Linked DNA regions of Homo sapiens: regions 2 and 3 are each linked to region 1. The links come from fine-mapping of genetic effects on gene expression. A gene starts in region 1. Each other region holds a variant in brackets. All regions are shown on one strand. Distances are from middle to middle. Region 1 holds the start of SLC39A13-AS1 (SLC39A13 antisense RNA 1). Region 2 holds the start of LOC124902673 (a long non-coding RNA gene). Region 3 overlaps SPI1 (Spi-1 proto-oncogene).

What was found. PIP is the estimated chance that this variant, and not a neighbour inherited with it, causes the effect.
Region 2: its variant is fine-mapped to the expression of SLC39A13-AS1 in whole blood (INTERVAL, PIP above 0.99).
Region 3: its variant is fine-mapped to the expression of SLC39A13-AS1 in whole blood (Lepik 2017, PIP 0.95).

The regions. Positions count from the first base shown.
Region 1 is chr11:47,405,617-47,413,616 of GRCh38, forward strand. SLC39A13-AS1 (SLC39A13 antisense RNA 1) reads right to left here and starts at 3,666. Exons shown (of 4, transcript NR_182308.1): 1 at 3,336-3,666. It overlaps SLC39A13 (solute carrier family 39 member 13), which reads left to right and starts at 2,974. Exons shown (of 10, transcript NM_001128225.3): 1 at 2,974-3,046; 2 at 4,471-4,779; 3 at 6,310-6,423; 4 at 6,730-6,851; 5 at 7,784-7,891; 6 at 7,981-8,000. The coding sequence starts at 4,479. RefSeq lists enhancers at 2,256-3,078, 3,367-4,233, 4,234-5,098 and a silencer at 2,487-3,276.
Region 2 is chr11:47,432,117-47,440,116 of GRCh38, forward strand. It overlaps RAPSN (receptor associated protein of the synapse), which reads right to left. Exons shown (of 8, transcript NM_005055.5): 7 at 6,616-6,815; 8 at 5,648-5,931. The coding sequence ends at 5,859. LOC124902673 (a long non-coding RNA gene) reads left to right here and starts at 5,508. Exons shown (of 2, transcript XR_007062669.1): 1 at 5,508-5,651. It also overlaps the pseudogene LOC124902820. The variant C/CAT (reference allele first, on the strand shown) is at 4,762.
Region 3 is chr11:47,354,767-47,362,766 of GRCh38, forward strand. It overlaps SPI1 (Spi-1 proto-oncogene), which reads right to left. Exons shown (of 5, transcript NM_003120.3): 3 at 5,087-5,274; 4 at 4,078-4,240; 5 at 94-780. The coding sequence ends at 461. Among named protein-coding and RNA genes, the nearest start is that of MYBPC3, 6.1 kb to the left of the region's middle. The variant G/A (reference allele first, on the strand shown) is at 4,276.

The DNA.
Region 1 (8,000 bases):
AGAGAGAGAGAGAAAGACAGAGGCTAGGTGCAGTGGCTCACGCCTATAATCCCAGCACTTTGGGAGGCTGAGGCGGGTGGATCATTTGAGGTAAGGAGTTCAAGACCAGCCTGGCCAACATGGTGAAACCCTGTCTCTACTACAAAAATTGGCCGGGAAGTAGTGGCCCATGCCTATAATTCCAGCTACTTGGGAGGCTGAGGCTGGAGAATTACTTGAGCCTGGGAGGCGGAGGTTGCAGTGAACCGAGATCATGCCACTATACTCCAGTCTGGGTGACAGAGTGAGACCCTGTCTCAAAAAAAAAAAAAAAAAAAAGAGAAAGAGAAAGAGATTTTATATAGTGAGATTTTCATATATCTGAGATGAGATTTGATATATGTATACAATTTTACACATTGCATACATGTGATCATATACACCTTTTATTTATTTATTTTGAGATGGAGTTTCGCTCTTGTTGCCCAGGCTGGAGTGCAATGGCGCGATCTCGGCTCACTGCAACCTCTACCTCCCAGGTTCAAGCGATTCTCCTGCCTCAGCCTCCCGAGTAGCTGGGATTACAGGCATGCGCCACCACACCTGGCTGATCTTGTATTTTTAGTAGAGGGGGTTTCTCCATGTTGGTCAGGCTGGTCTTGAACTCCCGACCGCAGGTGATCTGCCCACCTTGGCCTCCCAAAGTGCTGGGATTACAGGCATAAGCCACCATGCCCAGCCATATATGGCCATACACATCTTTTAATGTGTTGTTTTCCTTTAACATTTTTTCCTTCCCTATTCACATTAGTTCCTCCCACCATAGAATCCATAATATCACTTTAATGTGTTATCTATGTTTTTTATGTATTCATTATACATAGACTTATATATACTGATACCTTTAATCACATACACATATACAAGGTTTCTTTTTGTCATTATTTTAAAATAGTCTCTTAAAAAATAAAAATAGTGGATCATATTAAATAAATATTTCTGCATCTCACTTTTCTCACACACCTGGAAACCCCTGCAATTTTATTAATTTGTAATTTTTTTTATTTTTTTATTTTTGAGACAGGGTCTCGCTCTGTTACCCAGACTGGAGTGCAGTGGCACGATCAGGGCTCACTGCAGCCTTGACCTCCCGGGTTCAAGCAATCCTTCCACCTCAGCCTCCTGAGTAGCTGGGGCTACAGGTGCGCACCATTACACCTGACTAATTTTAAATTTTTTTGTAGAGACCAGTTCTCAGTTTGTTACCCAGGCTGGTCTGGAACTCCTGGGCTCAAAAGATCTTCCTTCCTAGGCCTCCCAAAGTGCTGGGATTACAGATGTGAGCCACCGGGCCTTAGGTATCCGATGGGAATTCCAGGCCAGGTGGGAGGAAAGGGTAGTGCATTGGCACCAAGTAACGTTTCTGGCTGGGTCTTGCCCATCCCCTTGTTGGGTGGCCAGGAGCGCTCAGCCTCCAGAGGCAGGAATGCTGACTGTGTTATTGTGAAATCATTTGCATATTGTGAAGTGCTTTGCATAAGATGGAGCGCTTTTGCATACAGGGAGGGGGGCATTTTAGAAGTCCTAGGGCAGGATCCCTGAGTAGCTTTTCTTTGCCAAGAAACTAACCCAGGGATTCCATTTTGGAACTCAGGGAGGGAACAGAACGTCCTGGCAGTTGTATGGGCCCGGTGGGGTGAGATGGACAGAAAGCTTCAGAAGACAAGCTGGGCCACCAGGGAGAAGTTGGCGGTCTAAGGAAGGCCAACAGTGCAACATGAAGTGGGACAGGCACCAGAGGCAGCCCTGAGAGCTGAGTGTGCTCTCAAGAGCCCCAGCAGAGGGGAAAGTGACAGAGTAAATGGTTGGAGCTGCCATGGGAGGCTGATGAGGGTCAGAGACTTAAGAGACCTGTACTCAGTCGCTATCTCTGCCCAAGTGAGTACCCACATGCCCCTTCCTGAATCTTCTCCTGTACTGGCTGATTTCCAGAGAAGAATACAAACTCGAAACGCCAAGCCAGACTCCCACTGCTGTTCAGGACCTAGACGTGAGAAGTGGTATCACATACTCTGGCTTCAGGACACCCAGGTTTGAATCCTGGCTCTGCCATCTGTGCCACTGTGTGACCCTGGGCTAACAGTACCCACCACAATGGGATAATATGAGGATTCAGTGAGATAGTGCGAGTAAAGTGAATAGCACATAGTAGGTGGTCAGTAAATTGCGGTTATAAGAACTGCTATCCAGTGTTTGCTGCCTTAGTCTAACCAAAGAGGTCAGGTCTAGCTTCCTCCAGGTGAGGGAAGCACAGAGCCCTCGCCTCCCAGGTTTGGAGTTCCCATCAGCAGGGTCCAGCCACCATGCATTGGACCCCAAAGGGTTACAAGCCCTGGAGACAGTGGCCTGAGGTTCCCAGTGAAAAACCAAAGCATAAAAATAATTCGATGAGTAAGAATAAAATTCCCTCTTCTGAGGTTCCCGGGGCCAGGCCCCTCCCTGCGGCAGGCACTTCCCCTTTCCCTTGCTCATGGAGGAGCCAGGCCGGGCTGACTCAGAGCAGGAGCGCACAGTAGTCCTCCCAGCCCGACCTGGGCGGCGTGGTCTGGCGGCCGGGCGCGCCCCCGTGCGGCCACGGGCAGACTGCGGCCCTGGACGGGAAGCGGCGGCCAGATCCGCAAGCCCCGCAGCCTGGTCGATCGCGGTCCCCGCAGAGCCGCCGCTTCCGTCCCTGCCCAGCCTGGCTGAGCGCGGTGCGTGTGGCTCTCTCACTTCCGACCGACCCTCCCCTCCGGCCCGCAGCCCTGCCCAAACGGAAGTGCGCCCTCTACCCGGGTCCCCCACCGCCGCGAGGCGGAAGCGCCCTCCCGCCGCCACTCCCCCCGACCCCGCGGCACGCGGCGCCTCGGGTTCCGGACAGGCCCCTTGTGACGTGGCCGCGCGCCGGGGGCGGCCCCGGGCCGGGGGCCGGGCGGCCGGGCGGCCGGGCGGGGCAGAGCCTGGGCGGGGCGCGGCACCGCAGCTGGATGGCTGGGGCCGCCCGGATCGCCGCCGCCGCCGCCGCACGGTGAGTGCCAGCAGGACCCTCGGGGCCCGCGCCCCGGGCGTGATGGACCCGGCCGATCCCTCGCCCCGTCCGACTGGTCCTCATCAGACCTGGGCCGGCTCCCAGGACCCGGGAGTCAGGCTCGCCCGCTTCGGCCTCCTCTCCCCCATCGCTCCGCGCCCCACGCCCCATCCCTCCCTCGCTGTCCTCTCCGCGTCCCACCCGCCTCTCTCTAGCTCTCTCACTCTCTACTTTCCTCTCCCCTTGGACTCTCCGTGTATTCCCTCCCGCTAGCCTGTGGTCCCCTCACCTCTGCGTGACCGCCTCGTCCTGGCCCAGTCTTGCCTGTGGTCCCCAGTGGAGCCCCGCTGGCTTCATCAGTGCCCCTGATTAGTTAAGGCCTGGAGGTCCTAGACATGGGCATCTCTGCCACCACCCAGAGGCAGCTGCTTTCTTCCCCTCCCATCTCCATCAGAAGGTGAGGAAACTGAGGCAGGGACATCACCAGCTCAAGGTCACAGCCAGCCTGAGGCAGAGCAGACCACATTTAAACCTCATGCCCGAGTTTCCAGATGGAACTTCTCGCTTGGTTGACTCACGTCCACATCCTGTGATCGGCCGGCTGGGCACATTCCTGCTGCAGGGAGCCCCAGGCCTTCCCTGGCACAGGCAGGGCCTCTGCGCCTCCTCATGCCGGGTACATCCACCTGCACTTTCAGGCTTATCTCGTCCTCACAGCTGAGGCAGGTGATATTGATCCCTGTCCTGCAGATGAGGGCACTGAGGCTCAGAGGGGGGGCTTCAGAGATTTGCCCAGAGTTAGACAGCTCAAAGTGCAGCATAGAATTCACCGTGGGGGCTCTAAAGCCTGCGCTATACAAGAGAGAGGCATCCCCTGGCTAAAGGCTCCTTCCTCATCAGCCCCATCTCCTGTTGCCCTCAGTGCCCTGGGGACATTGGTCTCATGTCCTAGGAAGAAGCGTGGATGGTCTTGCCCTGGCTCATCTGCTCAGTTTCCCCACGTATGTCTCTCTGAATCCACCCCATCCCCTTAGAAGGGGTGCCTCAGTCTCTGGGGTGTCGCGGGCGGCAGGGCCTCCCCTGGCAGCCAGAGACACCCAGCTGGGCCGGGCCGTGCCGCCGGTGGCTGAGGAGAGCCAGCCAGCGCCTCACCCTGTCATTAGGGAAAGTTTAGCCTCAGGCGGAGGTGCTGACACAGTCTGGAGCTGCTCAGAAGGAAAAAATACGCAGTGCTCAGGAGTAGGGTGTGGAGACACAGGGCCCCATTGCTGTGCACCCAGCATTTGGATGCTCAGACGCTCTGGCAAGGACAGCAGGAGGGTGGATGCCAGGGTCCCTTGCGGGGAGGAGGGAGGCGCCACGTTTCCTAAGCAGGTGTGCGGCCAAGGCTGTAGCTCATATAGGTGGCCTTTTGTGTTTTTCAGTACGTGGCATGCCTGGATGTCCCTGCCCTGGCTGTGGCATGGCGGGCCCAAGGCTCCTCTTCCTCACTGCCCTTGCCCTGGAGCTCTTGGAAAGGGCTGGGGGTTCCCAGCCGGCCCTCCGGAGCCGGGGGACTGCGACGGCCTGTCGCCTGGACAACAAGGAAAGCGAGTCCTGGGGGGCTCTGCTGAGCGGAGAGCGGCTGGACACCTGGATCTGCTCCCTCCTGGGTTCCCTCATGGTGGGGCTCAGTGGGGTCTTCCCGTTGCTTGTCATTCCCCTAGAGATGGGGACCATGCTGCGCTCAGAAGGTAGGTGACTCTCCGGTGGCGCCCAGGGCTGGCCAGGGTGTGGGAAGCATGCTGCTGCTCTTCTTAGGAGACCCCAGGTCACAGAGTGTCTGAGATGGAGGGAGAGGATAGAATAGAACTTCTCCCCTTGGTCCTGTAGGAGCTATCTAGCCAGGGGCGGCTGGCTCTGGCTTCCCCAGGAAGCTATGAGCACCTGGTAGCAGGGCCTGCCCCTGGGGAGGGGGTCTAGGAGATGGGGATGTGGGCACGGGTGGGAGCTTTGTCCTGACTACCCTTTTGTACCATGAGCATGTACTGCCCGTTCACAAATAACATGTTGTAACAAAACACGCAGGAGAGCTCTAGGGAGCTGCTAAGAATGCACGTGCCTATCCCCCACCTAAGAGGGGTGGACCAAGGCCCTGGGAATCTGTTAGAAACGAGCATCCCAGGGGCTGGTGCTGCCAGCTGGATGCTCAGGAACCATTCACTTACCAGATGGTTACCCAGCAGCTCTGTGCCAGGCACTGGGCTGAGGGCGGTGCCACAGCTGTGAATAGAGCCCTGCTTGGGCCATGGTCAGGCCTGTGCTCAACCCTCAGAGCAGCCCTGCGGGGTCAGTGCAGGGAGCACCTGGATTATTAGTTCCATTTTACAAGTGGGGATGCACAGGCACAGAGAGGTTCTTTGACCAGTCCAAGGTCACCCAGCCAGGAAATAGCAGTTTCCCCTGGGATCCCACCCCAAACCCAGCTGCCTCTGTCCTCTAGGCCTCAGTTTCTCTATCAAGCCAAAGGGTTGGACATGGCTTTCAGGCAGGCGACTTCCAACCCTGGATGCTGCAAGTCCCCAAATCTCTGCCACTTTTCTGAGAGTGACAGCAGCTGAGAAGAGAAAAATTCCCACGTAATGAGCACTTGCTGTACATATTGTCATTTAATTCCCATAAGAGCCCATAAAAGGCTCACAGCTGTAATCTCAGCAGTTTGGGAGGCTGAGGTGGGCAGATCACCTGAGGTCAGGAGTTCGAGACCAGCCTGGCCAACATGATGAAACCCCGTCTCTACCAAAAATACAAAAATTAGCCGGATGTGGTGGCACACACCTGTAATCCCAGCTACTCAGGAGGCTGAGGCAGGAGAGTCGCTTGAACCTGGGAGATGGAGGTTGCAGTGAACCAAGATCACGCCACTGCACTCCAGCCTGGGCAACAGAGCGAGACTCCATCTCAAAACAAAACAAGATAAAATAATAATTCCCATAAGACCCAATTTACAGATGGAGAAACCGAGTCTCCAAAGTCATCTGCCAAGGTCACCAGCTAGTGGGTTGGGAGCTGGGACCTGTCAGCTCTTCACCATGACATGGTGGTGGCCCTGTGGGCATTTGGCAGGGTGTGGTGTTTCTGCTGTGAGGTGGGGGACCCAGGAAGAGCAGCCACCCATATCCAGCCTTGCAGGCCCAGAAAGAGCCCAGTGAGTGGGGTGGGATGAAGGTCAGGCCAGGAGCTCCAGCCAGTCAGCCCCCAGACCCCGCATCTCTCCCTTGTAGCTGGGGCCTGGCGCCTGAAGCAGCTGCTCAGCTTCGCCCTGGGGGGACTCTTGGGCAATGTGTTTCTGCATCTGCTGCCCGAAGCCTGGGCCTACACGTGCAGCGCCAGCCCTGGTAAGTGAGGCCACACGCCAGGGGCAAGACAGTGCCAGGAGTGGGGGCCTGGTGCCCACGCCCAGGGATGGCCAGGATGACCAGGAGAGGGATTCTGGGTTTCTGGCAGGAGCTTGCCTGGGAGGGAGGGAGGGTCATTGTCCTGGTCTCTGGGCCCTGGTCCCAGTGGGAGTTCTGGGCCCCAGCTGCCCAACCCACCCTTGTCACTGCCCTGGTGCCCTGGATGAGATCCCATTCCAAATGGCCCCCTCCTATGGCCCTGGCTTGGCTTGGCCTGGCCTGGCCTGGCATTGCCGCCCCCTGCAGGTGGTGAGGGGCAGAGCCTGCAGCAGCAGCAACAGCTGGGGCTGTGGGTCATTGCTGGCATCCTGACCTTCCTGGCGTTGGAGAAGATGTTCCTGGACAGCAAGGAGGAGGGGACCAGCCAGGTGGGCCCCACACTCAAGGGCCTGGATATATCAGCCTCTGTTCTGTGGTAGTGCCCGGGGCCTGGAGGCCCAGGGTCTGAGTTGAGCCCTGAAAAGAGGGGTCTCCTGGCCCTCTCCTGGGAGCTGCGGGAGGTTGGGCCACCTTCTTTGGGACTGACACCATTAGCCCCTGATGTAGCTTGTTCTGGTAGCCTGATGGTGACAGCAGTTGGGGAGGGTTTGTTGAGTTTGGGGGCACCCAACTGATATAGCAGCAGAGGATTCTAGCTAGAAAAAACAGGGGTTCCTATCTTTTTTTTTTTTTTTTTTTTTGAGACGGAGTCTCGCTCTGTCACCCAGGCTGAAGTGCAGTGGCACGATCGTGGCTCACGGCAACCTCTGCCTCCCGGGTTCAAGCGATTCTCCTGCCTCAGCCTCCCGAGTAGCTGGGACCACAGGTGCGCGCCACCATGCCCAGCTAACTTTTGTATTTTTAGTGGAGACGGGGTTTCACCATGTTGTCCAGGATGGTCTCGATCTCTTGACTTCTTGATCCACCCACCTCAGCCTCCCAATTATTATTATTATTTTTTTGAGAAGAGTCTCGCTCTGTCACCCAGGCTGGAGTGCAGTGGCGCGATCTCGGCTCACTACAGCTTTCACCTCCCAGGTTCAAGCAATTCTTCTGCCTCAGCCTCCCAAGTAGCTGGGACCACGCCCAGCTAATTTTTGTATTTTTAGTAGAGGTGGGGTTTCACCATGTTGGCCAGGCTGGTCTCGAACTCCTGACCTCAGGTGATCCATCTGCCTTGGGCTCCCAAAGTGCTGGGATTACAGGCATGAGCCACTGCACCCAGCCCCCGTCTCTCTTTCTCCATCTCTCTCCCCTTCTGTCTGCCCTGGCTGAGTGGGGGGCATCTAATGTCACCTCTCCCTCCTTCTCCTGGCCCTAGGCCCCCAACAAAGACCCCACTGCTGCTGCCGCCGCGCTCAATGGAGGCCACTGTCTGGCCCAGCCGGCTGCAGAGCCCGGCCTCGGTGCCGTGGTCCGGAGCATCAAAGTGAGTGGCCTGCTCAGGGCCCCTGCAGCCGTACTGCCCTGAGTGGCCAGCCCCACTCAGCCCTGCCTCCTGCCTTCCCTCCTTCCCAGGTCAGCGGCTACCTCAACCT
Region 2 (8,000 bases), 26 kb after region 1:
TGCAGTGAGCTGAGATCAGGCCACTGCACTCCAGCCTGGGCAACACAGCAAGACTCCGTCATAAAAAAAAAAATCAAAATAACTTCCAGACTTCATGACACTTCACCTGTAAATACTTCAGCCCGTGTCTCCTAAAAACAGACATTTTCATACATAGCTATGATACATTGGTAGTATAATACCTTGTCAGCTGGGGGTGGTGGCTCACGCCTGTAGTCCCAGAATTTTGGGAGGCCAAAGCAGGCGGATCACTTGAGGTTGGTATCCGAGACCAGTCTGGCCAACATGGAGAAACCCTGTCTCTACTAAAAATACAAAAATTAGCTGGGCATGGTGGTGCATGCCTGTAATCCCAGCTACTCAGGAGGCTGAGGCAGGAGAATCACTTGAGCCTGGGAGGTGGAGGTAGCAGTGAGTCAAGATTGCGCCACTGCACTCCAGCCTAGGTGACAGAGGGAGACTCTGTCTCCAAAAAAAAAAAAAAAAAAAAAAAATCTATCTATCTATATATATAGTCATACCCAGGGAATTTAATATTGATGCAATAATATCCAATATATAGTCTATATAAAAATGTCTTAAATTATTCCCTAAACATCCCTTATAGCCTTTAAAAAAAAAATCCAGTATCGTTGGCCAGGTGCGGTGGCTCACGCCTGTAATCCCAGCACTTTGGGAGGCCGAGGCGGGTGGATCACCTGAGGTCAGGAGTTCATAGACCAGCCTGGCCAACATGGCGAAACCCTGTCTCTACTAAAAATACAAAAAATTAGCTGGGCGCTGTGGTGGGCGCCTGTAATCCCAGCTACTTGGGAGGCTGAGGCAGGAGAATTGCTTGAACCTGGAAAGTGGAGGTTGCAGTGAGCCGATATCGCGCCACTGCACTCCAGCCTGGGCAACAGAGCAAGACTCCATCTAAGAAATAAATAAATAAATAAATAAAATAAAATAATTTTAAAAATCCAGCATCAAGTCAAGGGTCACATGATCCATTTAGTTGTCACATCTCTTTAATCTTCTTTATTCCAGAACAATCTCTCAATCATTTTGGTCTTTCATGGCCTTGGCATTTTTGAAACATTCAGGCCAGCTGTCTTGTATGGAATCTGTTCTCCACATAGCAACCAGAGGAATTCTTGTAAAACCAAGTCAGATCACGTCACTCCTCTGCTCAAAATCCTCAGCAGGTGCCCGACTCGCCAGAGCAGGAGCCAAAGTCCTTCCCAAGTCCTGCATGTGTTCACACCACACTCTCCTCCTGGCCTCCACTCCTCCTCCTTCCCTCCTGCTCACTTACAGGCCTCCCTGCTGCTCCTGAGCACATCAGGCAAGCTCCTGTCTTAGGATTCTGTTCTCTAGGAGAATGCTCTTTCCAGGAAATCTGCTTAGTTCAATCTCTCACCTCCTTTAAGGTTTCACTCACATGCCACCTTCTCAATGAGGCCCAGCCTGTTTCGTTTTTTTTTTTTCACAGGGTCTCACTCTGGCCCAGGCTGGAGTGCAGTGGTGCCATCTCAGCTCTTTGCAGCCTCTGCCTCCTGGGCTTAAGTGATACTCCCACCTCAGCCTCCCAAGTAGTTGGGATTACAGATGTGCACCACCACATGTGGCTAATTTTTGTATTTTTAGTAGAGACAGGGTTTTGCCGTGTTGCCCAGGCTGGTCTCGAACTCCTGACCTCAAGTGATTTGCCTGCCTCCGCCTCCCAAACTACTGGAGTTACAGGCGTGAGCCACCACACCCAGACAATTAGTGCCTTTATAGGAAGAGGAAGACAGAGGGAGGGAGGGAAAGAGACTAGGGGGTGGGGGGCAGATCACCTGAGGTCAGGTGTTCGAGACCAGCCTGGCCAACATGGCCAAATTCTGTCTCTACTAAAAATACAAAAATTAGCCGGGTGTGGTGACACGTGCCTGTAATCCCAGCATTTTGGGAGGCTGAGGCAGGTGGATTGCTTGAGTCCAGGACTTCATGACCAGCCTGACCAACATGGTGAAACCCTATCTCTACTAAAAATACAAAAATTAGGCAGGCATAGTGGCACATACCTGTAATCCTGGCTACTTGGGAGGCTGAGGCAGTGAGCCAAGACCATGCCACTGCACTCTAGCCTGGGCAACAGAGCGAGACTCTGTCTCAAAAATAAATAAATACATAAAAAGAGAGAGAGAGAGGGCTCAATCTTGCTGTCACCACAGCAGCATGGGGGGAAAGTCTTGTAAGAACACAGAGAGAAGGGCAAGTCAGGAGGAGAGGCTTCTTGAATTTTCTGGCACCTCGATCTTGGATGTCCTGTCTCTAGAACTGTAAGTTTTAGTTGTTTAAGCTTCTCATCCTAAGGTGCCTTGTTATGGCAGCCTGAGCTGCGACATTCACTGTTACTCATTATCAGTGGCTGCTGGGAGCCCATCCAAGCTGGCTCCTGTGGCCTTTGAGTTTTCCTCATTATTCTTTCAACTTCCCTTGCTTTCTGGCACAAAATAGCTCTGGCTCATCTTGTACTCTCTATGACCCAGCCCTGGAATCAGGCCCTTGACCAAAGAGCCTTGGTTCCTTTTTGTGAAACATGGTGTTTCAAAGCCAAGCCCTGGCTGCTGGGTGAGCTCATTGCTGTTGGCATATCACTGCGCCCAGGCTGGTGGACACGCACATTTATAACTATATTTATTTCTAGATCTACCCGTATATTTTGAAATCCATGAGTTCACACTGATTCTTACAATTCTAATTCAGCGCCACAGGGTCCACTCTGGTTCTCTCCCTTTCCATATTTGTAATTCTCTCCATCAATAGTGAGAAAGCGGCCAGGCACGGTGGCTCACACCTGTAATCTCAGCACTTTGGGAGGCTGAGGCAGGCGGATCATGGGGTCAGGAGATCGAGACCATCCTGGCTAACACAGTGAAAACCTGTCTCTACTAAAAATGCAAAAAATTAGCCGGCATGGTGGCACATGCCTGTAGTCCCAGTTACTCAGGAGGCTGAGGCAGGAGAATTGCTTCAACCCAGGAGGCAGAGGTTGCAGTGAGCCAAGATGGAGGCATTGCACTCCAGCTTGGGTGACAAAGCAAGACTCCATCTAAAAAAAAAAAAAAGTGAGAAAGCTGCCTTCCACTGTCCTTAATCTACCTACTTTTTTTTTTTTTTTTTTTGAGATGGAGTCTCACTCTTGTTGCCCAGGCTGGAGTGCAGTGGTGTGCTCTCAGCTCACTGCAACCTCCACCTCCTGGGCTCAAGGGATTCTCCTGCCTCAGCCTCCAAGTAGCTGGGATTACAAGTGTGCACCACCACGCCCAGCTAATTTTTTTTTTTTTTTTTTTTTGAGACAGAGTCTTGCTCTGTCACCCAGGCTGGAGTGCAGTGGCAGGATTTCGGCTCACTGCAAGCTCTGCTTCCTTGGTTCACGCCATTCTCCTGCCTCAGCCTCCTGAGTAGCTGGGACTACAGGCGCCTGCCACCACGCCAGGCTAATTTTTTTTTGTATTTTTAGTAGAGATGGGGTTTCACCATGTTGGCCAGGCTGCTTTCGAACTCCTGACCTCAAGTGATCCACTTGCCTCGGCTTCCCAGAGTGCTGGGATTATAGACTGTGAGCCACCGCACCTGACCTACTTACTTGTTTGATCAACCCCCTCTGTGTACCCAGTGTTCCACTGCCACTCCCTTCCACACACAGAACCCTCTTCACTCCATCCTTGACCTAATGCCCCCTGCCAGGATGCCCCAAATCATGTGCATGGCCTATTCGCTCTACTCAAGCTCTGATGCCTCACACAAACCTTCACCAATTTGGATGCCTCCTTACTCTGGTGAGGTCCCAATGGCCCACGCCAGGCTGCCCCTCCTTGGGCTTGGTCTCTGACACTTCAAAACAACCCAACCCCATGTGTGGATTCTGTCCTCTCTCCACACAGGTTCTGACCTCTCACCCCAGGCCTTGCCCTGTGTGGACACTCTTCAGCCTGCTTAGATTCCAGTGCCTCACACCAGGTCACCCCTCCACACAGATGCTTGTCTTGCTCTGTCCCACTTAATGGTTTTAGAACTGGTTTAGGGAAGGGGGTGAACATGAGGAAGAGGGACCAGGCTCTACTCTTTTTTCTTTTTTGAGATGGAGTCTCGCTCTGTTGCCCAGGCTGGAGTGCAATGGCACAATCTCAGCCCACCACAACTGCCACCTCCCAGGATCAAGCGATTCTCCTGCTTCAGCCTCCGGAGGAGCTGGGATTACAGGCGCCCACCACCGCGCCCAGCTAATGTTTGTATTTTTAGTAGAGACGGGGTTTCACCATGTTGGTCAGGCTGGTCTCGAACTCCTGACCTCAGGTGATCCAACCTCCCCTCTGCCTCCCAGAGTGCTGGGATTACAGGTGTGAGCCACTGCGCCAGGCCTCTACTCTTATTTTTTTTTTTTTGAGACAGAGTATTGCTCTGTCCCCCAGGCTGAAGTGCAGTAGTATGATCTTGGCTCACTGCAACCTCTGCCTCCCAGGTTCAAGAGATTCTCCTGCTTCATCCTCCCGAGTAGCTGGGACTACAGGTGTGTGCCACCATGCTGACTAATTTTTGTATTTTTTTTTTTCTAGAGACAGGGTTTTGCCATGTTGTACAGGCTGGTCTTGAACTCCTGGGTTCAAGTGACCCACCCACCTCGGCCTCCCAAAGTGCTGGAATTACAAGCAGGAACCACTGCACACAACCAGGCTCTACTCTTTATTGTTACAAAGAACTTATCACATTATATGAGCCTGCTAGGACTGT[C/CAT]ATTAGGCAGGTGAGGCCTTTGGGAGGCAATTAGGTCATGAGGGTGGAGCCCTTATATATGGGATTAGTGCCCTTATTAAGGGACTGTGCCTGGCATGGTTGTTCTCGCCTGTAATCCCAGCACTTTGGGAGGCCAAGACAGGTGGATCTTTTGAGGTCAGGAGTTAGAGACCAGCCTGGCCAACTTGGAGAAACCCTGTCTCTACTAAAAATAGAAAAATTAGCCAGGCATGTTGATGCGTGTCTGTAATCCCAGCTACTCAGGAGGCTGAGGCAGGAGAACTGCTTGAACCCGGGAGGCGGAGGTTGCAGTGAGCTGAGATCTCACCACTGCACTCCAGCCTGGGCGACAGAGTGAGACCCTGTCTCAAAAAGAAAAAAAAAAAAGGAATGCAGAGAACTTCCTTGTCCCTTCCACCATGCAAGAACACAGCAAGAAAACTCAATCTGTGAGCAAGAATGTGCGCCCTCACCAGACACCCAATCTGCAGGTGCCTTGATCTTGGACTTCCCAGCCTCCAGAACTGTGACATATCAATTCCTGTTGTTTACAAGCCACCCAGTCTGTTTCGTTACAACAGCCCAAACGGACTAAGCCTTCAACATGGGAATCTGGGGGGACACGATTCGTCTATAGCAGCTTCCCACCAGGCTTTCCAAACTGTGTGTTTCCTGTTTATCATATACCCTCCCACCCACTGCACGTCAGCTTCTCACTGCAGGGATCGTGTCTCTGTGGCATCCCAAGTTCCTGGAGGGGCTGCTGGAGGCCCTTGTACATATGTGCAGAGGAAACGCTTGCGTCTGAGGAAGCTCCTGTGGGGCGCCTCACTCCCACTCTCCCCACTCCTCAGACCTTGGGCATGGAAAGTCGGAATCCCTGGGACCAGGTACAAACAGTTTATTTTTCTATAAAGAGCAAAGTACAAAGAGGCAGGGAGGGGAGCTGGGCCCAGGGGAGCAGCCCTGGGCAGGCCCCAAGGCCTTGGCTATGGTGAGGACGACCTGGCAGCTGCCCCAGGAGTAAATGGGCCTCTGGCGTGCAGTGGAGAAAGAGCAGGAGTGGCGAGGAGGAAGCCCACGCCTGCTGCCAGGAGTCATACAAAGCCAGGCTTCATGGATGAGCGGCGGCAGTTGGGACAGCTCCGGGTCCCGTTGTTCTGCAGGCACCTGGGGAGGCAAAGGGCCCTGTCCACTCCCCTGAGGCCTGTCCTTCCCTCCGGGCCCTCTCTTCCTTCCTTGCCTGCCCTCTGCAGGGGCTGGGATGCATCCTGGTGGCTGTTCAGCAGCAGTGGAAGGGAAGGGAACGGTCCCCCCAGGCTCCCACTGCACCCGGCTTGCCCCTCTCCTCCTCTGCCCCAGGGACCTCCAGGGCAGAGCAGGGGCTGGGAGTTGAGAGGATGGGATGGAACCAGACCCACGGCAGGTCTGGCCCTGGACGTCCGACCTAATGACCTTTGAGGGGCCTCTCTGACTCCTCTTTGGGGATTATGAAAAGAATGGCCACAGATCTCAGCTCACTGCAGCCTCTGCCTCCCGGGTTCAAGTGATTCTCCTGCCTCAGCCTCCCGAGTAGTTGGGATTACAGGCTCCCACCACCATGCCTGGGTAATTTTTGTATTTTTAGTAGAGACGGGGTTTCACCATGTTGGCCAAGATGATCTTGAACCCCGGGGCTCAAGTGATCAGCCCGCCTCGGCCTCCCAAAGTGCTTGCGAGACAGACGTGAGGCACCACGCCTGGCCAAGGTTAAGTGTTTGCTATTAGTATTATTGCTGTGATTAAGCCAGCTGGGCCCTAGAGTGCCCCGAAGAGATCCTGCCCACCCCTGTCCACCCCCCCAGGAGCCCCCACCTGAGGTGGAAGATGTGGGAGCAAGGTAGGGCCTGCAGCCGGCTGTTCTTCTCGCCTATGGACTCGCCGCACAGGCCGCAGTAGAGCTCCGTCTCCTCCACGCACTCGTGGAACCTCACAACGTGCGCCCGCAGTTCCCGCTGCAGCCCTTTGCTGCGGTAAATGCTCTCGCTCAGACAGTGCAGCTTGAGCTGGCTCAGCTGGGGCCCGCAGGAGTGGAGAGCGCCAGTGGGGGATGAGAACAAAGTCAGTGCAGGTAGGCTCCGGTCTCAGCCACTTCCCTGTCTTGCTGATGGACCTTGGAAAAATGTCCTGCCCTCTCTGGGACCTTGCTTCCTTTCATGCAGAATGAGGCGGTGGGTGAGATCAGAAGACTTCACCCCCCAGAACTGCCTGGAGACCCCATGTTTTTGACAGATTTTATGACCAAACCTGGTGCACAGACTCCATAATAATTTGCGGCAGGGCGCCGTGGCTCATGCCTGTAATCCCAGCACTTGGGGAGGCCGAGGCAGGTGGATCACCTGAGGCCAGGAGTTCGAGACCAGCCTGGCCAACATGGCGAAACCCCATCTCTACTAAAAATACAAAAATTAGCCGGGGGTGGTGGTGAGTGCCTGTAATCCCTGCTACTCAGGAGACTGAGGCAGGAGAATCGCTTGAACCCAGGAGGCGGAGGTTGCAGTAAGCCGAAATCGCACCACTGCACTCCAGCCTGGGCTCTAATAGTGAAACTCCGTCTCAAAAAAAAATAATAATTAATCTGCTTTCCTGTTTTTATTAATTAAATATACACACAATAGCTCATCAGCATTTCTGATCAGCCTGATACCCAGGTAAACCAGAGTGGCTATAATCCAACCAAATTTTGGCATTTTGGTTGGACTGTGCACAGGATCTCGTAGAAATGCACATCTGGAAGGCTTTGAGAAGTGGTGAACCTGTTTTCAAGATTTTAAGGTTTTAATAAGATTATGACGATTTTTTTTTTTTTTTTTTTAGATGGAGTCTTGCTCTGTCACCCAGGCTGGAGTACAGTGGCACAATCTTGGTTCATGGCAACCTCCACCTCCCGGGTTCAAGTGATTCTCCTGCCTCAGCCTCCCAAGCAGCTGGGATTACAGGCGTGCACTACCACACCTGGCTAATTTTTGTATTTTTAGTAGAGACAGAGTTTCACCATGTTGGTCAGGCTGATCTCAGGTGATCTGCCCACCTCGGCCTCCCAAAATGCAGGTGTGAGCCACCGCACCCGGCCTTGGTTTTGGTTTTTAGGCCATGCTAATCTTCTCTGTATTGTTCCAATTTCAGAATATGGGCTGCCAAAGCAAGCACTAGATACCATTATTAAATTTGGAACATGGGCTTTGTAGTTAAAACAGACA
Region 3 (8,000 bases), 51 kb before region 1:
CGATGGACAAATGACAAAAAGAGACGTCGCAGCACACAGGGGCCAAAAGAGATACACAACAAATTTTAAAAGAGACTCTGTGCTGCAAGAGGATGGATTGAGAATAACTTTACTTGTTTTTTGGGAGGAGGTTAATGGGTGGGAGGGGTGAGAGGGGAGATCTGATTTACATACGGACTTGAGACTCCCAAGGCAGTACCCCGGGTCGTCCTCTGCAAGGTTGCCCCGGTGGGGTCTGACGCCCAGCTGGCGTCCGGGAGCCGGGGTGGAGTCCTGGAGGGAGGCGAAGCGGGATGTGGAGGGGGCCTGGAGTGGGGGGAGGGGGCGGGTGAGGCGAGGCCCGGCCCGCCACAGTCCTGCCTCTGGGCCCCGGGAGCGTCCTCCCTGTGTCCGGGCCGGGCGAGGGCTTAATGCTATGGCCAGCGGGGAGGCCTGGCGGGGCCCGGCGGGGGCTGCGGGCTCAGTGGGGCGGGTGGCGCCGCTCGGCCAGGCCCCCGCGGCCCAGCACTTCGCCGCTGAACTGGTAGGTGAGCTTCTTCTTCACCTTCTTGACCTCGCCCGTCTTGCCGTAGTTGCGCAGCGCGCGCGCCATCTTCTGGTAGGTCATCTTCTTGCGGTTGCCCTTCTGGATGCCCCAGCGGTGCGCCAGCGCCTCCTTGTGCTTGGACGAGAACTGGAAGGTGCCCTTGTCCTTGTCCACCCACCAGATGCTGTCCTTCATGTCGCCGCTGCGGAGCAGGTCCAACAGGAACTGGTACAGGCGGATCTTCTTCTTGCTGCCTGCGGGGGGGAGGGCCCGGTGGGAGGGGGCCCGGGGCCCACATGGGAGCCGCCCCCACCGCCTTGCGTACGCACAGGGGCCCGGGGACGGGGTGGCCGGGAAGGGCAGGGGAACGGCTGCCCCAGCCCGCGCCGGGCGTGCATACACAACGCACCCACACTCACACACACACACATGCTTGCGCACACACAGGCGTTCACACACACCCACTCACACCCACGCACTCACCCCCCCCACGCGCACACACTCGCACCCACACAGTGCACCAAGTACACACACATGCTCACATCCACATAACGCACCCACACCTCCTTACACATGCTCACACATCACGCCCACACCCACTCACACACGTGCTCACACAACGCACCTTCTCACACCCACTCACACTCATGCTTAAACACAATGCAACCACTCACTCATGCTCACACCCACACACGCTCACACGTACAATGTATCTGATCACACACATGCTGTCACACACATGCACACACAATGCACGTGCTCACAGACTCACACCCACATGCTCACACACATGCTTGTGCAATGCACCCAAACGCCAGATTGCACCCACACCCACCCACTTGCACATTCACACCCACATCTGCCCTCACACACTGTCACTTTCTCACACACCCACACAATGCACCAGCTCACACTCACACACATGCTCACACACTCATTCACTAACATGCCCCCACACACTGGCACCCACACGACACACCCACTCACATGCTTGCACCCACCCACATGTTCAAACCCACACTGCATCTGCTTACACATTCACAACCCACTCACACACACCTGGTCACACCCACTCATGCTCACACCTCATTCACACCCACTCACATGCACACTCACACCCACCCAATGCACCCACTCACACACATGCACACACACTCAGACCCACTTACTGCCCCCACACACGGTCACACCCAATGCACCTTCTCACACTCATATGCCCACTCACACCTGCTCACACACACCTCACACCAGGTTCACACACTCATGTTCACACACCTGCTCATACACCTCACACCAGGTCTCATAATCACACCTGCTTATACTTGCTTACACATGCTTGCACAAACACACCTGCTTACACATCTTACACTGCTCACCCTCACACCTTACATTGCTCACCCTTGCACACACATGCCCCTGCTCACACACACATGCTTACACCACACCATTCACTCACACATATCCACTCACATATGATCGCACCTACCCACACCTCACACACACTTGCACGCACACACCTGCTTACACACATCTCACGTTACTCAGCCCCACACGCACACACCTGCTCACACACATCTCACATTACTCAGCTACACACACACGCCCCTGCTCACACACTTGTGCTCACACACCTCACACCATTCACTCACGCACACACCCACTCACACATGCTCACGTCTGCTCACACACATGCTCACCTATCCATACACACACTTCCTCACACACCTCACACCAAGTCTCACACACACTTATGCTTACAAACTCATGCTCACACACATGCTAACACTTCACACATGCTAACACCTCACACATTCACACCCACTCACATGCTCACACCTCACACATGCTCACACCTCATACCTCACACACATGCTCACATCTCACACCCACTCACACACACCTGCCCACACATATCTGCACACACACATGCTCACACATATGCTCACACATCACACATACCTGCTCACATACATGCTCACACCTCACAGCTGCTCACTTATCACTCACACGCTCACACCAGCTCTTTCACACCTCATTGACACCTGCTCACTCATATTTCACACCACTTACACTTGCACCTCACACCTGCTCACGCATGCACATACATTCTGCTCATGCATATCCACTTGCATGCTTACACGCCTGTTCACACACAACCACTCAGACACCTACTTGCACACTCAAATGCTCACACACATTCTGCTCTCACATCCACTCACAGCAGCTCACACTCATGCATGCTCACACACACCTGCTCTCACACTCACACATCACACCCATTCTCTTGTTTTTGAGATGGAGTTGCTCTTGTTGCCCAGGCTGGAGTGCAATGGCACGATCTCGGCTCACTGCAACCTCCACCTCCCGGGTTCAAGCAATTCTCCTGTCTCAGCCTTCCAAGTAGCTGGGATTACAGGCGTTCACCACCACGCCTGACTAATTTTTGTATTTTTAGTGGAGACGGGGTTTCGCCATGTTGGCCAGGCTGGTCTCGAACACCTGACCTCAGGTGATCCGCCTGCCTCAGCCTCCCAAAGTGCTGGGATACAGGCGTGAGCCACCACGCCCGGCCCACTCACACCCATTCATGCTCACACACTCATTCACACACCTGCTTTCACACATACACATACCTGTTCACACACATGCACACCTGCTCACACACGCAGGTGCTTAAGCACGTCCTCACCCCCCACACACACCTGCTCACACATGGGAACACACACATGCTTACACATGTTAAAACACATATCCACTCACATACATGCACAGACCTGCTCACATATACACATACATGCTCACACACCCCAGCTCACACCTTCCTGCTCACACACACCTGCTTACATACACCCTCAAACATGTTCACACCCACTCACACATCCACTGACACACACCTATGCCCATTCACACACACTTATATCACACACATCCCTGCTTACATACACATTCACACATATACACTTGCTCACACACCTGCTGTCACACCCCCACTCACACATATCACTCACACATGCCTGCTTACAGCCACTCACATATACCATGCTCACATCCCTGCTCACACAGGCACACCCACACACTGCTGACACCCACTGACATCATACGTGCACAGCTGCTCACACGCACTGAAATACATTCATGTGTTGACAGACACACAAACATGGCCACACCCACTCTCAGCCACACCAGCTCTCACATTCACCTTCTCACACACCCACTCACACAGCCACTCGCACACATGCACCTGCCCGTACCTGTGCACACGCACCCTCTGCACACTTGCTCACACACACCCAGATGTACACACACTCATGGCACAGAGAGACACACACACCTGGCACACTTCATGGAGATGCCCGTATGCACTACACAGCAGATACACACACACAGAGACAGCCACAGACAGCCCCACAAAACACACACACTGGCAAACATGCACACACACACACACGCGACTCGGTGGCGTGGCTGCTGGGTCAGTTGGCCTGGCTGGGTGGGGGCAGGGCACAGACACGGCCAGGGTCGGGGCCAGGGTGGAGGGCCAGGTGCCCCACCTGTCTCCCCAGGCAGGAGCCCAGGCCCGGGCTCCAGGCCATCCGCCTCGCCGTCAGACACCTCCAGTGGGGGGCTCTGCCGCTCGCCCTCCTCCTCATCTGAGCTGGGCTGGGCTGGGGACAGGGATGGGTACTGGAGGCACATCCGGGGCAGGTAGGAGACCTGGACGGTGGGGGAAGGAGATCAGAGTCAGGAAG[G/A]GCCAGCTTACAGCTCAGGGGGGCTGGGAGGGAGGTCAGCTGGGGAGAGAAGGAGTGCAGAGGGCAGGGGACAATGGCAGGCACAGGAGACTGGAGGAAGAAGACCAGGGAAAAGGGGGGCCAGTTGAGGTGCTGCACATAGGGTGCAGGCTGTGGGGCGAGGGGTGCTGACATCCAGCCCACCCAGCCCTCCCAGCTGGGCCTCCTGGTTTAGGACTGTGGGCACCGGGGAAGTGGTGCCTTGTTCTCCTCCCTGCAGCGGTGCTGTGTGGACCCGCATTAGGCTGGGGTCAGAAGAGGGCATGCTAGGGACCGGTGCGTTGGGTCTGGAAGGGGGTTTCATAGGTGGGATGATGAGTGAGTGGAGGGACCCTGGAGGTCAGTAGGGGTGGTAGAGGTCAGCAGAGGTCACTGATCCGGGTTAGGGTCAGTAGGGAGGGTCACTGGGGAGAGGCAGGGTCAGTAGAGGTGTTCAGTGACTTGGTGTGGGATCCATGAGGGCTAGTGAATGGGGGTGGCAGACAGTGAGGCCCAGGAGGGCCCACAACAAGGCGTTGGGATGGGGAGGCTTGGTGAGGGTGCGAGAATTATCTGGGGTCTGTCCATACTCGGGGTGAGATGAGATAAGGGGTGTGGGGTCATGAGGTCACTTGGGGGGTCAGGCGGCAGCCGTTGGAGCTCCAGCCGCCGTTGGCACTGTGGGGCAGGAAGCTGAGTTGGGTAAGAGCCTGTGTCAGCTTCCTGTGAAGCTCCCGGGCCCCACCACAGGCCTGGCAGTCTCCTGGGGGACGGGGCAGGCGGTGGCATGCACCTGGTGGCCAAGACTGGGATGGGGTGGCACCATGGGGGTATCGAGGACGTGCATCTGCTCCAGCTCCATGTGGCGGTAGAGCTGCTGCAGCTGCGGGGGCTGCACGCTCTGGAGCTCCGTGAAGTTGTTCTCGGCGAAGCTCTCGAACTCGCTGTGCACGTGGTGGGGGTGGAAGTCCCAGTAATGGTCTGTGGGGGACAGCCAGGCAGTATGGGGTGAGCTCAGGGTTGGGCAGGGCAGGAAAAGGTTATAGTAACATTAAATAATACTGCCAGGCCATATGGGGCCTAACCATCTCGTTTAACCCTCGCCACCTGCATGGTTACTCTAGGCCTGCATTTTATAGATGAGGACACTGAGGCTTCGAGCGGCTACATAGCATGCCCAAGGTCAAAAGCATCCGGGTCACAGCCAGGACTCAGGGCTGAAGCAAAGCTCGTGTTCTCAGCAATTCCATCCTGATTCCTGTGCAGTCACACAGACCGAGCGTCTAATCCTGGCTCTGCCATTTACTTGCTGTGTGACCTCAGGCACATATGTGGCCTCTCTAACCTCAGTTGAGTTGCCTGTAAAATGGGGATCACAGTTATTGGGAAGATACGAATGAGTACACATTTGTAAAACACCTCGCACCAGAGCCGGCCCTCAGGGAAAGTTGATTCCCCTCCTATCCTGTTAAAACCTCCCAGCCAGGGCCGCGCGCGGTGGCTCACGCCTGTAAACCCAGCATTTTGGGAGGCGGAGGCGGGCGGATCATGAGGTCAGGAGATTGAGACCATCCTGGCCAACGTGGTGAAATCCCATCTCTACTAAAATACAAAATATTAGCTGGGCGTGGTGGTAGGTGCCGTAATCCCAGCTACTCAGGAGGCTGAGGCAGGAGAATCGCTTGAACCCGAGAGGTGGAGGTAGCAGTGAGCCGAGATTGCGCCACTGCACTCCAGCCTGGCGACAGAGTGAGACTCTGCCTCAAAAAAAAAAAAACTCGGCCGGGCGCAGTGGCTCACGCCTGTAATCCCAGCACTTTGGGAGGCCGAGGTGGGTGGATAACGAGGTCAGGAGATCAAGACCATCCTGGCTAACACAGTGAAACCCCGTCTCTAGTAAAATACAAAAAAATTAGCTGGGCGTGGTGGCGGGTGCCTGTAGTCCCAGCTACTCAGGAGGCTGAGGCAGGAGAATGGTGTGAACCCAGGAGGCGGAGGCTGCAGTGAGCCGAGATTGCGCCACTGCACTCCAGCCTGGGCGACGGAGCGAGACTCCGTCTCAAAAAGAAAAAAAAAGAAAAAAGAAAAGAAAAAAACCTCCCACGGGTTCCTGAGCTCCCTGGCTGCCCACAGTCTCTCTCTCTGTCTCACACACACACACTCACACAGCCTTGTCACATGGCCAAGGTGTGACAGCAGAGTCACAGGGCTGACATTCCTCACACACTAGAACTTGTCCAGGCACACGGTGGCCCTTCCTCTTCAAAGCCATGACCTTAAGCAGTGGCACCTGTGTTCCCGTGAGGTTCCTGGGACCTGAGACTTTCCTGGAAAACCCCCTGTGGGTTCCTTGAGTCTGTGGTGGAGGAGACTGAAGTCCGGGGAATAACCCCATGCCACCAAAAGCCCTGTCTTGGAACTGGGGAAGATCTTCAGCATGAACACCTTTTCCAGGAACAAAAACTGCCACACATCTGCGGGACTTCCTGGGCGCAATTCGGGGTCCAAAATGAAGCGTGGTAATAAAGTGACAAGATCGGCTGTCTCATGTGGGCCAAAGAGGGCGCCTACGAGACTCCAGGTCCAGGCAGTGTCTCTGGGACAAGTCCACCACCAGCCATGCGTGCGTGTGTACGTGTGTACAAAGGTGTACACATGTCTGCCTGCATCTCTCTTTCTCTCTCACACAAACACCTAATCACACATCCCTAATAGATAATCATGATTTTTGGTTCTGGACTGGATCTCGGAGTACTCGCTTTCTAAACCTGCTTTGCAGTATGACCATGGACAAGACATTTTTTTCTCCCGGAGCCTCTCATTCCCCACTCTAAAAGTCAGAAATGCTTTTAGACCTGGGTAGTTACTGAGGCCTTGTCTACATGTATAATTATTTGGCCTCACAGTCCAGACAACCCAGACTCCCACCTTTAGGAAGCCACATGGCAGAGAGGAGAGAAAGGCAGAGCTGGGCTCAAGTTCTGGCTCTGCCATTTACCACTGTGTGACAATGGGCAGGTCATTCTATTTCTCCAAGCCTGTGTCCTCATCTGTTAAATGGGGCTAACAATTACACCCATCTCACAGGCTTGTTTTGAGAAGCAAATGACCTATTGCTTGCAAAGTGCTTAGACTAGAACTTGGCACAAAGACAGACCTTGATAAACATTAACTTCATCATTATCATTATTATTAATAATAATAATAGTTTATTCTAAAGAGCCTAGATTCCCACTGAGTGTGGTTACACCTATAATCCCAGCTACCCAGGAGGCTGGAGAGGGAGGATCACTTCAGCCCAGGAGTTTGAGACCGGCCTGGGCAACATAGTGAGACCCTATCTCTACAAAAAATGTTTAAAAATTTGCCAGACATGGTGGCACACACTTCTAGTCCCAGCTACTTGGGAGGCTGATACGAAAAGATCGTTTGAACCCAGGAGTTTGAGGCTGCAGTGAGCTATGATTACATCACTGCCTCCAGCCTGGGTGACAGAGTGAGACCCTGTCTCTTTTTTTTTTTTTTTTTTTTTCTCTGAGATGAAGTCTCACTCTTGCCCAAGCTGGAGTGCAGTGGCACGATATCGGCTCACTGCAACCTCCACCTCCCGGGTTCAAGTGATTCTCCTGCCTCAGCCTCCCAAGTAGCTGGTAATACAGGCATGTACCACCATGCCCAGCTAATTTTTGTATTTTTAGTAGAGATGG